Regions from separate parts of the Homo sapiens genome. Here region 1 is reported to be linked to region 2. Evidence: microRNA targets listed by miRTarBase, many of them from high-throughput screens and not tested one by one. Region 2 holds a microRNA gene; the other region holds the end of a gene's coding sequence.

Evidence for each region. Region 2 holds the annotated microRNA hsa-miR-4793-5p (ACAUCCUGCUCCACAGGGCAGAGG, at 4,748-4,771, opposite strand). A microRNA usually pairs through its seed, bases 2 to 8, with sites in the 3' UTR of a target mRNA and lowers its output. Matches are read on the target gene's strand: a 7mer-m8 pairs with bases 2 to 8, a 7mer-A1 pairs with bases 2 to 7 and ends in A, and an 8mer does both.
Region 1: miRTarBase lists KAT14 as a target of hsa-miR-4793-5p. Seed matches in the 3' UTR shown: 7mer-A1 at 1,259-1,265.

Annotation. Positions count from the first base shown.
Region 1 is chr20:18,186,549-18,193,668 of GRCh38, forward strand. It overlaps KAT14 (lysine acetyltransferase 14), which reads left to right. Exons shown (of 11, transcript NM_001392073.1): 11 at 738-1,487. The coding sequence ends at 911. Among named protein-coding and RNA genes, the nearest start is that of PET117, 52 kb to the left of the region's middle.
Region 2 is chr3:48,639,492-48,646,611 of GRCh38, forward strand. MIR4793 (microRNA 4793) reads right to left here and starts at 4,789; the gene lies at 4,703-4,789. CELSR3 (cadherin EGF LAG seven-pass G-type receptor 3) reads right to left here. Exons shown (of 35, transcript NM_001407.3): 22 at 6,599-6,766; 23 at 6,251-6,377; 24 at 5,952-6,158; 25 at 5,544-5,718; 26 at 5,225-5,337; 27 at 4,725-4,804; 28 at 4,063-4,186; 29 at 3,476-3,592; 30 at 3,245-3,393; 31 at 2,867-2,976; 32 at 2,360-2,518; 33 at 1,833-2,033; 34 at 183-1,068.

The DNA of each region.
Region 1 (7,120 bases), not on the chromosome of region 2:
CAGTATTTCAGTGCCTTCTTTATTAAAAAGTAAGTTCTTAAATGATATGACTTTTGGGACACCTTACTCTGTGTAGCTGATTAAAGAATCTAAGGACTTGCCTTGTGTTGATAGAATGATTGTTACTCTTTTCCCCTAAGATTAGGTCAAAGCTGAATGTAGAAATCTCAGTTCTAAGAAGCTAATTCTGTCAGTTTTAGAGAGACAGAAGGTGGACTTTGGGATTCAGAAGGTCTATACAAGGGCCTCAGGTTTTATAATTACATTCTTAATATTTCATGTTTGTGCATGTAATTTAGCAGGCCTAGTAAAGGAATTTTTACAGGTTTTGGGGAGGTACAAGATAACATCTAGTTTTAAAAAGCAAAACTTATTTTGTTTTGTATTTATTCAAGGTTATCATAGTGTTAGGTATTGAAATGTTTGACATATTTAAAGGTAATTGAGTTGTAAATAATAAAGCTGACAATAACAATATCCCCATTGACCCTTTGCTTCAAAGAAAAATAAAAAACACCCAGAATACTATCAGTTTCCTTGGTCTTGTGAATGTTTTGATCAGCAGCAAAATGTCATTCTGTTTCCAGCTGTTGCTAGGTGTTGCAATGTCTCAGCCTCAGTCTCTGATTTCTCCGGTTTCCATAACTAACTGCCTACACTTAAAAGCGTTTCTTTACCTACTCATTTTCCCTCAGGCCTTTCCATTTTTATCTTGTATTTTTCCACTCTTTTGGCAGACCTGCATGGGCAAGGACGTAACCCTTCACGTCTCAGCAAGCAACCCCGCTATGCTACTGTACCAGAAGTTTGGATTCAAGACTGAAGAATATGTATTAGATTTCTATGATAAATATTACCCATTGGAGAGTACAGAGTGTAAACACGCATTCTTTCTGAGGCTCCGGCGCTGATGCGAATACAGCTCACAGAGAAACGCATGTGCTATTGGAGAACAGGTCTTTGTGGAGATCTAAAGGCAGTGATTGATTTCACAGGGAGCTCTAATCTCTGTGATTACATGGTCCTTCAAACTCCCAACCAAAGTGAGAAAAGCGGCATGCAGTGAAATGAGCAGTGAGCAGCCCTTTAGCAAAATCGCCCTCCAGTCCTTCCTGGAGATGCCTTCAGCCAGCATCCCAGACTCCACAGTTATTTATGAATGATGTCGTGATTCTCCCTCCACCTGACAGTTTGTAAGAGTGAAAGAGCATCTAACCTGATGCTCTTGGAGAGAGATAACCTGTCTGTCATAACTTAAAGGATGAGAAAATGTGGTGTAGCTATTAAAGATTCATGCAGTCCCAAAAGGCACTGTCCTGGGATGATGAGAGATTATAAGGTGATTTCATAAAAGGAATCCAACCCTGTGCCCGGCCATTGATGTGTTGTCATTGAATCCAGGAGGATTTCTAGGGCACTGAAGTTTTGTTGTTTCTTTTGCTGACTTTGGTTACAGTCAGAAAAAATAAACTAGATGTTTGTGTCTACATGTTCTACCTGTTGTACCTATTAGCATCTTCCTGCAGGGACTTGGGCCCATGGCCTGGGAGGTTGGTTTGGGATTGGGGTTGTTGGGCAGCCTGCCATTCACCTGGCCTATCCTGGCCCTTCTCATGCCCAAGACAGTTGTTTCACAGGAGTGGAAGTGTGGGTGATGCAAGTAGAACCCTCTAGATGTACCCTGTGTGGTCTGCAGGACTGGACTGTTTGCTGTGTTTGTGGATGTTGGCGATAGACTGTCAATTAGGTTGTTTGTGATCCAACAAGAACATTTCCAAAAGTATCTAGGTGTTCTCAAATAAAAAGCTTTCTTTGCACAACCCATGGCCAGAGCGTCAATCTAGTCAGTTTGCTTTCAAACCCTCTTTAATTAAGATCAGTGGTTCTTAACTTTTTGGGACATGGATCACTTTGAGAATACAAAGAAAGCTGAATACTCTCTAGAAAACTGTCATGCACATTTAAAATTTTGCATCAGGGATCTGTCGACCACAAGTTAAGAACATCTGTTCTAGAAGCTGTACTTGCAGCCAGCTCGAATTCCTTTGTGAGAGAGAATGTGTTGAGCTCCCACATTAAGCCAATCTGGAAGCTGTTCAGTCATCTGGGGAAACAGTTGAGGCTCCATTTCATTTGTGAGAGGAACTGTAGCAGCACTGTCTTATCTATTTCTTTCCTTTTCTTTACCTCCTACCCTGCCTCCCAAGAGTTTTCTGCCTCTTTGGAAGGTTTTTGTTGACAGAATGGATTGTAACACCACGAAGTAAAATTGAGGAGACAACATTTCCACATCTGTAAACCAGCTTGTGATTGTTGTATGTGAATGTCAGGCATTTGTTGTTGCAAAGTGGGGGCTCAAATAATTGTCTCTGTAACTTCAGGGAGCTGAGGAAAGCTGTGATTGCTTTTACTGACTCTGTTTCACTTTTTTTTTTTAATTTTGAGAAATTTTAAAAACCCTTTTCATTTCTTTTTTCTTTTTTAAATTTTGAGACAGGGTCTCACTTTGTCGCCCAGGCTGCAGTGAAGTGGCACTGGCGCAATCTCAGCTCACTGCAACTTCCGCCTCCCAGGTTCAAGTGATTCTCCTGCCTCAGCCTCCTGAATAGCTGGGACCACAGGAACACGCGACCACACCTCGCTAATTTTTTGTGTTTTTGGTAGAGATGGGGTTTCACCGTGTTTTCCAGGCTGGTCTCGAACTCCTGAGCTCAAGTGATCTTGGCCTCCCAAATTGCTGGGATTATAGGCATGAGCCACCACACCCGGCCTTTGAGAAATTTTAATCACACACAAAGACAATGATGCCACAAACCCCATCACCCATATTCAACAATTGTTGAAATTCTATGTCATTTGCTTCATTTATCCTTTTTTTTTTTTGCTAAACTATCTGAAGGTAAATTCTAGATATCATATAATTTTACCACTTCTTACTCAAATAGGTATTTCTAAAAAATAAGGATATTTTCTTATATAATCTCAGTGTTCATTATCAGTCCTCTAACAAGATGAACATGTTTGGAATTATCTAGCAGTCAACCTGTAGTCACACCTTTTGAATTGTTTCAGAAATTCCTTTTACAGTTGGTTTGTTGGATCAGCGGCCAAGCAGGGTCCACATAAGTGACTTACTGTCCTGTCTCCACCGCCTGTTCATCCAGAGTGCCTCCGCCCTATTACTGCACTGCCACTGACAACATCAGTTGTCCCATGGCATGTCCCACATGTGGGTTGTCTGTTGCGTCCTTGTGGTGTCCTTCATGGGGCAGGACTGACTGGACAAGGTGAGGAGTGGACCTATGCTTGTCTCTTTAGCGGAGGGTGGGGACAGCTGACTCCCTGCCCCACTCCATTCCCTGCTTGGGTGTTGGGGCAGGGCCATTTCCCAGGGGTGGGCTTGATGGCCCCTGTGTGTGGGGCAGCTGTCGGTTTTGATCTGCCTTTCTCTCTGGCCCTTCTGAGCTAGCCCTGTAGTAAACCCTTAGCTAGTCCTCTAGAAGTGAATCTCCACAGTGCCAGGCTTGGGGCTGGGTTGCGGAAGAGCCATGTTTTGGTGGATTAAAGTCAAAATTTACTGTGAAGTTTCAGAATATCAAGTAAGGAGGAAGGCTTGTTTTTTCATGCCACAAAAGTGAGAATGAGTTCTGAATGAGTTCTGACAAGCTGAAGAGCTCTGCCTTCAGTTGTGTGTTCGTGAGAGAGTCTGGATTGTCCCCTTGGGAGGTGGCCTGGGGTAGCCAGGTGGGCCTTTGGGATCCCTAGGGGGTTGCAGTAATTCTGATTAATTATTGTCCATATTTACTCAGTCTTGTTCTAGGGAGGTTGAGCTCTATTTACAGCAGGATGGTTAAGAACCAGAAACATAATTTTAAATTTTCTAAAGGCAGTTAACATATTTTACATAAAGTTTTCATCACCTAAAAGCCACATTGCCTTGGGACCTTTTCCTGGAACTGTCTCCTGCAAGTGGCTTGGTGTATTCACTACAGCCCTGGGGAGAAGCATCCAGGTTGACCCCACAATGTGGGGTTGCATTACACAGTGTGGTTAAGCATATCCTCCAGGTATCTAACAGCAGGAAGTTGCAGTAAAAACATAATGTACCTCAGAACTGGGAATGGCCATGGGGTCATGAGACTCTTCATTAGTACATACCTAACTCACATACTTGTGAGTTTGTTAGTACATACTTGACTCTGAGAAATGTATTACAGTTATTTATGAGAAACAAGTTCACAGTCTTAGTGAATGTCATGCTTCAGCTTCCTCATCTGTAAAACAGGGTTGATGAGACCCACCTCACACATTTGTAGTGATAGGTACAACAAGGTCAAGAAAATCACAAATGGAGGACCCTGAATTCAAAGCCAGGCAGTCTGGTACCACAGCCTTCAGCCTTCACCGCTCTGGCTAAGCCTTGGGGAGGGGGCTGGGAGGTGTAGGGGGTAGTTTAGGGGGTCTGTGTGTGTCTGGCTCGGTACTGCCCCCAGTGCCTGGAGTGGTGCCCAGCACAGAGCCAGTACTCCACACATTGGATGAAGGAGGGAGAAAATGAGCTGTGTGTACCGGGAGTTCAATGTGATGAGAGACCTCAGTAATGCCTCTTGTTTTTTTCACTTTTTAAATATAGGCATGGAATCTTTCTGTTTATCAGAAATCATAAGTGTTTCTCATTGCACCCAGCCCCTTCTCTTTGCCTGGATAGGTAAAGGCAACTCTTAGCCTCTTAGAACCTTACAACATTATATACAGGTTACCCCATGCTAGAACAATCTCTACAAAAGTAACCAAAGACTGTAGTAAAATTTCAGTTTTATGAGCTAAAGGAAAAGACTGATGGCTGCTCAGGTTAAGAGGCTGGAAGGTGGACAGTTTGTGCTGTCACAGATGGAATGGCTCCAGGCAAGCCCACGTGTGTGAAGGGCAGCTCAGCCTTCCTCTGTAGCCTTGCTGCTCATATAAGGTGGAATTTTATTGCAGGTGACCTCAGAGCATAGGTCTGGAAGGCCACTGGCCCAAGCATGGAGACAAAGTCCACCTGGAAACTCAGAAGACCCAACATTCTATCCAGCAGAGCAGGTTCCAGGTGCATCACATGTGAATCCCCTCAGCCCTTGGGACAGCCAGAGCTCCTAGGAGTTTGTCCCCATTGGGTGCAGTCAGTAATGTGCTGATAAATGACCACAGACTGGGGGTGAGGTGGGGAGAGGGGGAGCAGTAAACCAAGCCCCTGATGTGTAGTGTTTGCTGATTTTCATGGTGAAATACTGTTACTATGGCAAATTTTCTTTTTCTTTTTTCTTTTTTTTTTTTGAAACAGAGTTTCCCTCTTGTCACCCAGGGTGGAGTGCAATGGCACAATCTCGGCTCACTGCAACCTCCGCCTCCTGGGTTCAAGTGATTCTCCTGCCTCAGCCTCCCAAGTAGCTGGGATTACAGGCGTGTAATCCCACCACGACCACCACGCCCAGCTAATTTTTGTATTTTTTTTTTTTTTTTTTTTTGAGACAGAGTCTCGCACTGCCGCCCAGGCTGGAGTGCAGTGGCGCAGTCTTGGTTCACTGCAAGCTCCACTTCCCAGGTTCATGCCATTCCCCTGCCTCAACCTCCTGAGTAGCTGGGACTACAGGCGCCCGCCCCATTCCCGGCTAATTTTTTGTATTTTTAGTAGAGACGGGGTTTCACCGTGTTAGCCAGGATGGCCTTGATCTCCTGACCTCATGATCCACCCGCCTCGGCCTCCCAAAGTGCTGGGATTACAGATGTGAGCCACCGCGCCCGGCCTAATTTTTGTATTTTTAGTAGAGATGGGATTTCACCATGTTGGCCAGACTGGTCTGGATCTCCCGAACTCAGGTGATCCACCCACCTTGGCCTTCCCAAGTGCTGGGATTACAGGCGTGAGCTACCACACCCAGCTCTATGGCCAATTTTCAAGCTACCAATGTGATGTCACTAAACCCAGAGGTAGAACGATGTGTACAGTAGCCACCATTATATTGTATTTCTGTCACGCAGAAACAATAGATGGAAGTTACCTCAGAAGCACAGGTAATAGTAACAAGCAGTCATGACAATTATCTAATTGTCATGTAGTAAGCTGTTTTGTTTGTTTGTATCTTATAGAGATAGGGTGGGTCTTGCTATGTTGGCCAGGGTGGTCTTGAACTCCTGGCCTCAAGCAATACTCCCACCTCAGCCTTACAAAGTGCTAGGATTACAGGCATGAGCCACTACACCTGGCTGACATTTAGTACGTTTTGAATATTGATTTTAAATATGATTGATTTAATTAATGTATATAATTTAACTTTTAATAATGACTTTGGAAATCTAACCAGCAGCTCCTGCATGCAGCCACCTCAGGGCTGGGCACAATGGGGTCTGATAGCTTGCCTGGTGGTCCCACAAGCAGCAGACTTGAGCAGCTCCTGGAGCTCACCACGTGCGGCCCACAGTGTGAGCCTGGGCAAGGACAGAGCTGCCTCCCGAGGAGTTCCTGTGCTGCCAGTAGCAGCTGGTGGAGGCGGACTAGGAAGGTCAGGGAGGCTTTCTGGAGGCCCTGGGAGGCCCAGGTTGCAGCCTCACACACATTGGATTGTCTGTGGCTTTTGTAGCTTCCAAGCTGGCTGCAGGGAGACCACTCTACTGAACACATTCTATGGCTTAAAGTAGTGGTCCCCAACCTTTTTGGCACCAGAGACCAGTTTTGTGGAAGACAATTTTTCCATGGACTGGGGTTGAGGGGGGAATGGTTTCAGGATGATTCAAGCACATTACATTTATTGTGCACTTTATTTCTATTATTATTACATTGAAATATCTAATGAAATAATTATAAAAGTCACCATAATGTAGAATCAGTGGGAGCCCTAAGCTTGTTGTTTTGCAGCTAGGTGGTCCCATCTTGGGGTGATGGGAGACAGTGACAGATCATAGGGCATTAAATTCTCATAAGGAGTGCACAACCTAGATCCCTTAAATATGCAGTCCACAATAGGGTTCACATTCCTGTGAGAATCTAATGCCACTGCTGATCTGACTGGAGGTGGAGCTCAGGTGATAATGCGAGTGATGGGGAGCGGCTATAAATACAGATGAAGCTTTGCTCACTTGC
Region 2 (7,120 bases):
ACACCCCCATTTCTTGCCAGATTCCTGTCCCCAGCCTGTGGCCCTCTGGCTGTGCTGAGCCTGGGGTAGCCCACACCTGTCTGCCAGCCCTCATCCCCTTCTGTGGCAGAACACAGGGCAGGGCACACAGGAGGTTGCCCTAAGCTGATGAGGGTGCAAGCAGGTGGCTGGACCATACTTACTCTGAGTCTGGCGACAGCTCCGAGATGCTGTGAGACGTGGCAGAACGTGGCGTGGAGGGCCCAAGCACAGAGGCTGTGGCAGAAGGTGTGGCAGTGGTGTGAGGGCCCAAGGGTGTGCTTGAAGATTGCACAGAGGAGAGGGCCGAGGAGTTGAAAGAGGCAAGGATGGAGGAAAGAATGTCCAACTGTTCTGTGGAGGGGCCATGGCTGGGGCCACTGACCGAGTCCTCCCTAGCTCTGAGCAGCTGCGGGAGTGGCCCAAGGGCTTCTCGTGAGGGGTGCCGGCTAGGCACCTGGTCCAGCTGCTCCCGAGAGTTCGAGCTCCTAGACAGAGAGTCCAGCGGCCGGGATGGCAAGAGGGGGTCCCTTGAGAGTTGCCGCTGGGGAGACAGGGGCAGAGGTGGGGGCTGTGGGTCAAGGTCCCGGGTGCGGCGGGGCGGAGGCAGCGTGCTCAACCACTCTCGAGGTGCCCCTAAGTCGAGCGCATCCCGTGACCCGAAGCGGCCAGCCATGGCGCCAGGGTAGTCCCGAGGTGGCTGCCTCCGTGGCAGGGTGCTGCCCCGATCTTTGGGCTCCAGTCGGCCTGGTGCAGCATCCATGCATTCCTGGGACCCTGGCCGGCTCAGGGGACGTAGAACAGGGGCAGGGGCTTCCTCTAGTCGCTCACGGCTCAGTTGCCGCCGGAGGAGCAGGTCCAGCTGTTCTCTAGAAGAGTAGCGGCTGGCTGGCTGTGAAAGGCTGCCCGTGCCCCCGCCAGCATAGATGCGACCGTAAGAGGCAGCTGGCACAGCACGGTGGCCCAAGGTGGCTGCACGGCACCAGGACAGCTCAGGGGCACCTCGGGTCTGTGGCACCAGTGGGTATTGCAACCGGTTCTTCAGGATGCCTGTGAGAGGAAGAAAATGGGGGGCAGGGTTTGTGTGGGAGGGGGAGGGCAGGCAGGAATTGCTGAGTCTAGGGGTGTGGCAGCCCTTGGGATCCTTCCAACACAGGGATGGGAGCAGGAACCCCTTGGGGAGCAGCAGAGGCAACCCTGGTGGTCCCAGAGAGGCAGCAGGACAGGGGTCAGAGTGGAAGGGCAGTCATCTTCCAGTTGTGGTCCCGGGGCAGGGGGAGGGCGGGCAGGTCTCATGGTGCAGGGGATGGGGCAAACTCCCTGAGGTCAGAAGAGGGGCAGCCCTCAGGTCCTGACAATGCAGGCCTGGCTGAAATGCAGGAACCCCCCGGGTTGGACAGGAGCAGTCCCCAGGTCCCTGTGATGCAAGGGTGAGGGCAGAAACCTCTTCTCCGGGTCCCCATAAAAGCAGAGTAGGGGGCAGAAATCTTCCAGATCAGAGCACGGGCTCTGGGATCTGGGTGGGGGGCAGGGGGAAGCAGCTCCTAGGGTCTCTGAAAAACAGATGGGCTGGGGCAGGAGTGGTCGCCTGTGGTCCCCCTGTGGTGCTGGCCAGGGTAGAGGGGGACAGAGAATTCCCAGGTCAGGACAGGAGCAGTCCCTGAGGACCGTGAAGCAGGCTAGAGAAGCAGAAGCGCCCTAGGTCAGAGTAAGAAGAGCTCTCAGTTTGGGATGAGGAAGCTGCAATCCCTTGGCTCAGGGCATGAGCAGCCCCCAGCGTGTCTGCGGTGTGGGCCAGGGCTCAGGGACTGTACCTTTCCTCTGGCGCTGGGCCCGGCCCAGAGAAGTCTCATCCCCACTGGTCAGGGCCGGGTCTGGCTGGTTGTTGTTAGCTGCATCCTTGCTGGTGTCCAGCCCCAGGCGCCTTTCAGAGCCCCAAGTCTGCAGAGCACAGGGGGCTGCCTCGCACTCCCCCAGGGCTGGCCAGTAGGACAGGAGGTCATTGCCATCCACATCTGTGGAGCCAGGTCAGGTTACAGGAGCTTCTGGGTTGATCCCAGTGACTCATGACCCCTGACCCTAATGACCCTTGAAACCCTGGCTGTTCTCATTGAGCAGAGGTGGGAACAGGAGGGTATCTCCTCAGAGATCAATGGGTGGGGGTGACTGGTGAGCTCCCTCCCCTTAACTGGAGGTGGACAGAGACTAAAAGTTGGGGAACCTGATGACTGAGGGGTCAGAAAGACCAGGATGAACCCCAACCGCAGGAAAGATGGGGAGCTGGAGGGATAACAAATGGGGCATCCCTTGGTCACCCAAGGGGTCAGAGGGCGCCTGGCACCTTTGGGGTGGGTGAGGAGCCTCTCACTCTGGGCTGCTCGGCAGAGTGGCCGTTGGAAGCGCCCCCGCGTCCGGCCATTGTCCTCGCTTTCTGAAGATGGAATGGAGAGACTCCTCTCCTCCTCCAAGGACAGGTCACTGTCAGAGTCGGAGTCTGCGCCTGGAGTTGGGAAAGTCAGAAGTACTTTCAGAGGTAAGGGACTTGGAGATAAGGGAATTTGGAGTTGAGGGTCTAGAGGTGGGTACGGCAAGGGGGTTAGGGTTGGGGACAGGAACCGGGGCTTGAAGTGGAGGTAGCAGCAGAAGGGCTGGGACTTATCAGAGGGAAGGACGAATCAGGAGTGGACTGGGAGAACCAGGGCTGGAGAGGTAGGTGCCTCCTGAGGCAGGGACCCTGGGGGAGATCGTCCCACCCCAGTCAGCCACTGCTCCCAGTATGGGGTAGAAGAAAAGGGGATGGGGAGAGATCCTCTGCCTCCCTCCTCCCTGCCCCAGGCCCCAACTCCACCAGCATCTCGATGGAACATGGCCACGTCCAGGTCAGTGGGGCCAGCATGAGCCTGGAGGCTGTGGTCAGTGTGGTCAGCGGCTGAGCCATGTCGAACCAGGACATTGTCCCTGGAAAAGCAGGAGCCCCCCCACCATGAAAGAGGGATGTGATGGGGTGCCTTGGAGGCTGGAGTGTCTTTGAGTGCACAGCCAGCTGCGGGTGGAATGGCATCCCTGGGTGTGTGTGGTGGGAAGCATTTAGGGCAGAGGCAGAAGCAGGGCCCCAGATGGCCAAGATGGGTGGAGCCACCCGCCCTAGGACCTGGTCAGCCAAGCCCTGGTAAGGTGGGGCTGGACTAAGCTGAGTGTTCCCTCACAAGGAGGCTCTTCCTCTCACCTGAGGTAGCTGCGGCCCCGCTGGCTGTCCTGGTCCTGGGTCCGGCCGGAGCGGGCACTGCTCACAGAGGAGACGGTGGAGGCGCCCAGAGTGATGCGGATGAGGCCACTCTCCTCAAAGAGAGCCGTGTTGTTGTAGGCCCCAGGTCCCTGGGGGTGGTAGGGACAGAGTGTGAGCTAACCCTGAAGCAGCCTAAAACTCTGGCTTCTCAGGGCCCCCATCCCGACTCACCAGCCCAGGTGCTGGCCTTGCCTCCTCAGGCGCTGCCTTCCTGCCCAGACAGGCTGGCATCCAGGCAGCCCGAGCATCTGCATTTAGGACACAGAAGAGCAGCAGCACCGCCAGGCCCTGTGGGTCAGCGAGGGTCAAAGCAGAGTCGGCAGGGATCAATCAGGGACCAGTATAAGTCACTGTGGGTCAGCAATGGGGTCAGTCACTGTAGGCTAGTGTGGGTCAGTGAGGAGCCCATGCGGGACTCAGTAAGGGAGTTGGGGAAGGTCAGCAGGGGAGAGGATGGAGCAGCAGGAGTGGCTGGAGTCTGTAAGGTCGGTGTGGATCAGCAAGGGGTCGGGAGCCTTGGTGTTGGTGAAGGTCGATCCAAGATCAGCACTCAGTCTGGGATCAGTGCCTAAGTTAGAGTCAGCTCCAGGCCTGGGGGCAGCAGCTAGGGCCAGTGTCTGGTCTGGGGTAGTACCCAGCCTGGCAAAGTTATCCAGTAAGAGTCAGCTCCAGGCCTAGGGTCAACGTCTGCCTAGGGATGGCCCCAGCCTACTGAAGGCCCACCTGGTTCTGGGGCAAGGGAGGGGCACCAGAGTCACCTGGAGGCCGCAGAGTCCAGCATGGAGGTAGTGGAAGGCTAGGATGCTGTGGTTGACTGCCAGGAGCCCAAAGAGCCAGGAGGCACTGACCAGCAGAAGCAGCAGGAAGGAGCTGCGAAGGGTCCTGCTGTGGGGACATGGGAAGACACAGGAGGACATGCAAGGCTCATGTAGGACTCATGCAGGGAACACGGGAGGACACACAGGGGCCACACACGAAACGTGAAAAAAAGGAACTCACACGGGAACATGGAGGTCTCTGGAGGACACTGGGGGAGATGGGAGGTCCCACAAAGAAACAGGAGAGCAGTCAAAGAGCCATGAGGACACGTGGGGAAAACACAGGGGTATGGGAGCCACAAGGGAGGGCACGGAAGACAGGTGGGAACACACAGGGCAGGGGGCAAAGTGAGCCACCCAGGCCATGGGAGACTCTGGGGGGACCCAGAGGACAAGGAGAGACAGCAGGGCAGAAGCACATGTGGGGCTACAGTATAGCGAGGGCGCCAGAGAGGGACCACAGGTCAGGGCAGGTGTGACTTCATTCCTTCATCTAGAACTTGGAGCCCAACCTGCACCAGGGAAGATCTGGGGGCCCCAGACCCCACCCAGGAGGGACCTGCCATCCTGAGAAGCCCCCTTCCTCCAGCCAGCCAACTCACAGTGCAGAGGTCTTCTTGGCCTCCCTCTGCCCTGTGGAGCAGGATGTGCGGGCAGCGAGGAGAAACATGGTCCCGTTCATCTGGACCCACGGCCAGACATGTGGGGCCGGGCAGGGCAGAGAGAGAGAGAGAGAGAGAGGCAATGAGAGACAGAGAGAGACTAAGATTCACGGAGAGAGGCAGAACCAGTGAGAAATTCACACATATACACACACACCAAAGGAGCTTAGCATCACAGAAAAAGAAATTGGGAACCAGAGAGGGACTGAGAGAGAGAAGCAGAGACAGAGGCAGGGACAGGCAACTGAATCTCTGACCCCGCGCCCCCATCTCCATGCCAGTTGAATGGGGGTGGCTACTGACCAGAGGACAGAAAAAATGAAGGCCGAGCCCAGGAAGCCTGCAGAATGCCACCTGACCGCCCTCAGCTGAGTCCACTGCACCTCCTCCCCCAATGAGGGAGGGAAGTACAGAGGGGGCACCAAGTCCAGGGCACTCACCACTATGACCAGGACAACAGGGCCAGCAAAGCTCCAGATGAGGGGCTCGTGGACTGAGATCCAGCAGAAGTCAGGGTTCCCATAGCCCTCAGGGTCCAGGCCCACAGCAAGGCCTTGGGAAGAGAAAGGGTAGGACTGAGGGTGTGTGTTCCAGAGCTGCTGACCAGCCCATGTATGGGAGAAAGCATGGGTGAGGGCAGAGCAGCAACCCCATGAATAGATGGCTTGGGGTTTGAGGTTGGGGGTCATGAGCAGGAGTGGGGACAGGGTCAGGGGTCAGGCCATGTGATGGTTGGAGGTTGGGGGTCACAGCCCTCACCCAGCAGCACAGCAGGGACGCCCCAGCCCAGGGCATGGTAGAAGCGCATGGCGCCGCGGTCCACGTTGCGTGGCTCAACCTGCATGCGGTAGAGGTGCAGCCCCTGCACGAAGAGCCACGCGAAGGTGCTGAGGAAGAAGTAGTGCAGGAGGATGGCGACTGCAGTGCACACCAGCTGAGGGCAGGGGGGCGTGTCAGGACCTCTCCTGCCTCACCCACCTCTGACCCCTACCCCAGGCATCTGCTTCCCACCTCTCACCCCTAAACCACAATATCTTACCCCAGCATCCTGCTGAAAACCCTGGCCCCAACCTGAGCATCCCTGACCTCTGACCCTGAGTTTTGGCCCCAGGCCTCCTGGGCCAGTAGGGTCATCAGGACACAAGTTCCCTGGCCCTGATCCTGCACCTGATTGTGGGTCCTGTGAATCCCCAGCAGGAAGAGGAGCTCTGCCACCCCCAGGGCGGCTGCCACATTGGCATGGATCCCACGCACATTGGACTTGAGGCTGCGCAGGCTCAGCAGGATGGCTGCAGTCAGCACCAGCGCAGCCACAGACACAGCCACGACCACGTGGGTGAACACAGCCAGCAGCTCCAGGTCGCCCTCCAGCCTCTACAGAGACAGGGATGGTTGATGGGTTGTTGGGCAGAATCCCCGTGTCCCTTTGACCCCCCACTTCCTTGGGACACTGAACACAGCCCCACCTCACGGGGAGAGGCATCCATGAGGACCCCAAAGGTCCCTGTCCGGCTGCAGCGACACCGTGCGTGGGACCCATTCCTGTGCACCAGCTCGCAGTCCCGTGCTGTCCACACACCATGCTGCTCCGCCCTGCAGCCACAGGGCAGTTAGACACAACTGTGACCCAGTGTCAGGCAGGGGTTTGTGAGAGATCATGGGAAGGGCTGAGGGTGCCTGGAGTTGGGGTACAGCATTCCTCATGGTCCGGGTTGCACAACAGCACTAGTGGGGGCCCCAGGGGAAGGCTGGGACTATTAGTTGGCCTCCCAAGGGCTAACGGGACCAAGGGTTTCCAGAATGGGGGTCCTCACAGGCCAGGTGGGTCCCACTGCACACAGATCGCCTTGCTCCGATTCGCTGTCTGTAGCAGGCGAAACTCTAGGCTGATGGGGGACTCCAGGATTCCCCTTAGGAAGTTGCGTCCGTGGAACACAGCCACGCTGACCACCGGGGAGTTCATGACGGGGTTCTGAGGAAGCCTGGGGAGACACCCATCTGGGCTTACGCACTGCTGACCTCCCCATGCTCAGCCTGCTTGCCTCACCCCGTCTTCATGCCACTCGCCAGGGCTGACCCAGGGTCTGGGATGTCCCCAGAGTGGAAGCTGTTTCTAAGAATCCCTCCAGCTTCTGCTGGGCTGCTGAGGGGCTGAGCAGCTCCAGGGGACCTGCAACTGTTTGCCTCTGATTGCCCTCCCTCCTACCCCCATCAGTCAGCCTGTCCTTGTCTGTCTCTGTCAGCCCTTTGGTCTGTCTGTACCTGGCTCATGGATCCCTCCTGTGTGTGGCTCTGTGTCTGTCAGCCTGTGGCTCTGTCACTCTGCACAACTCCAG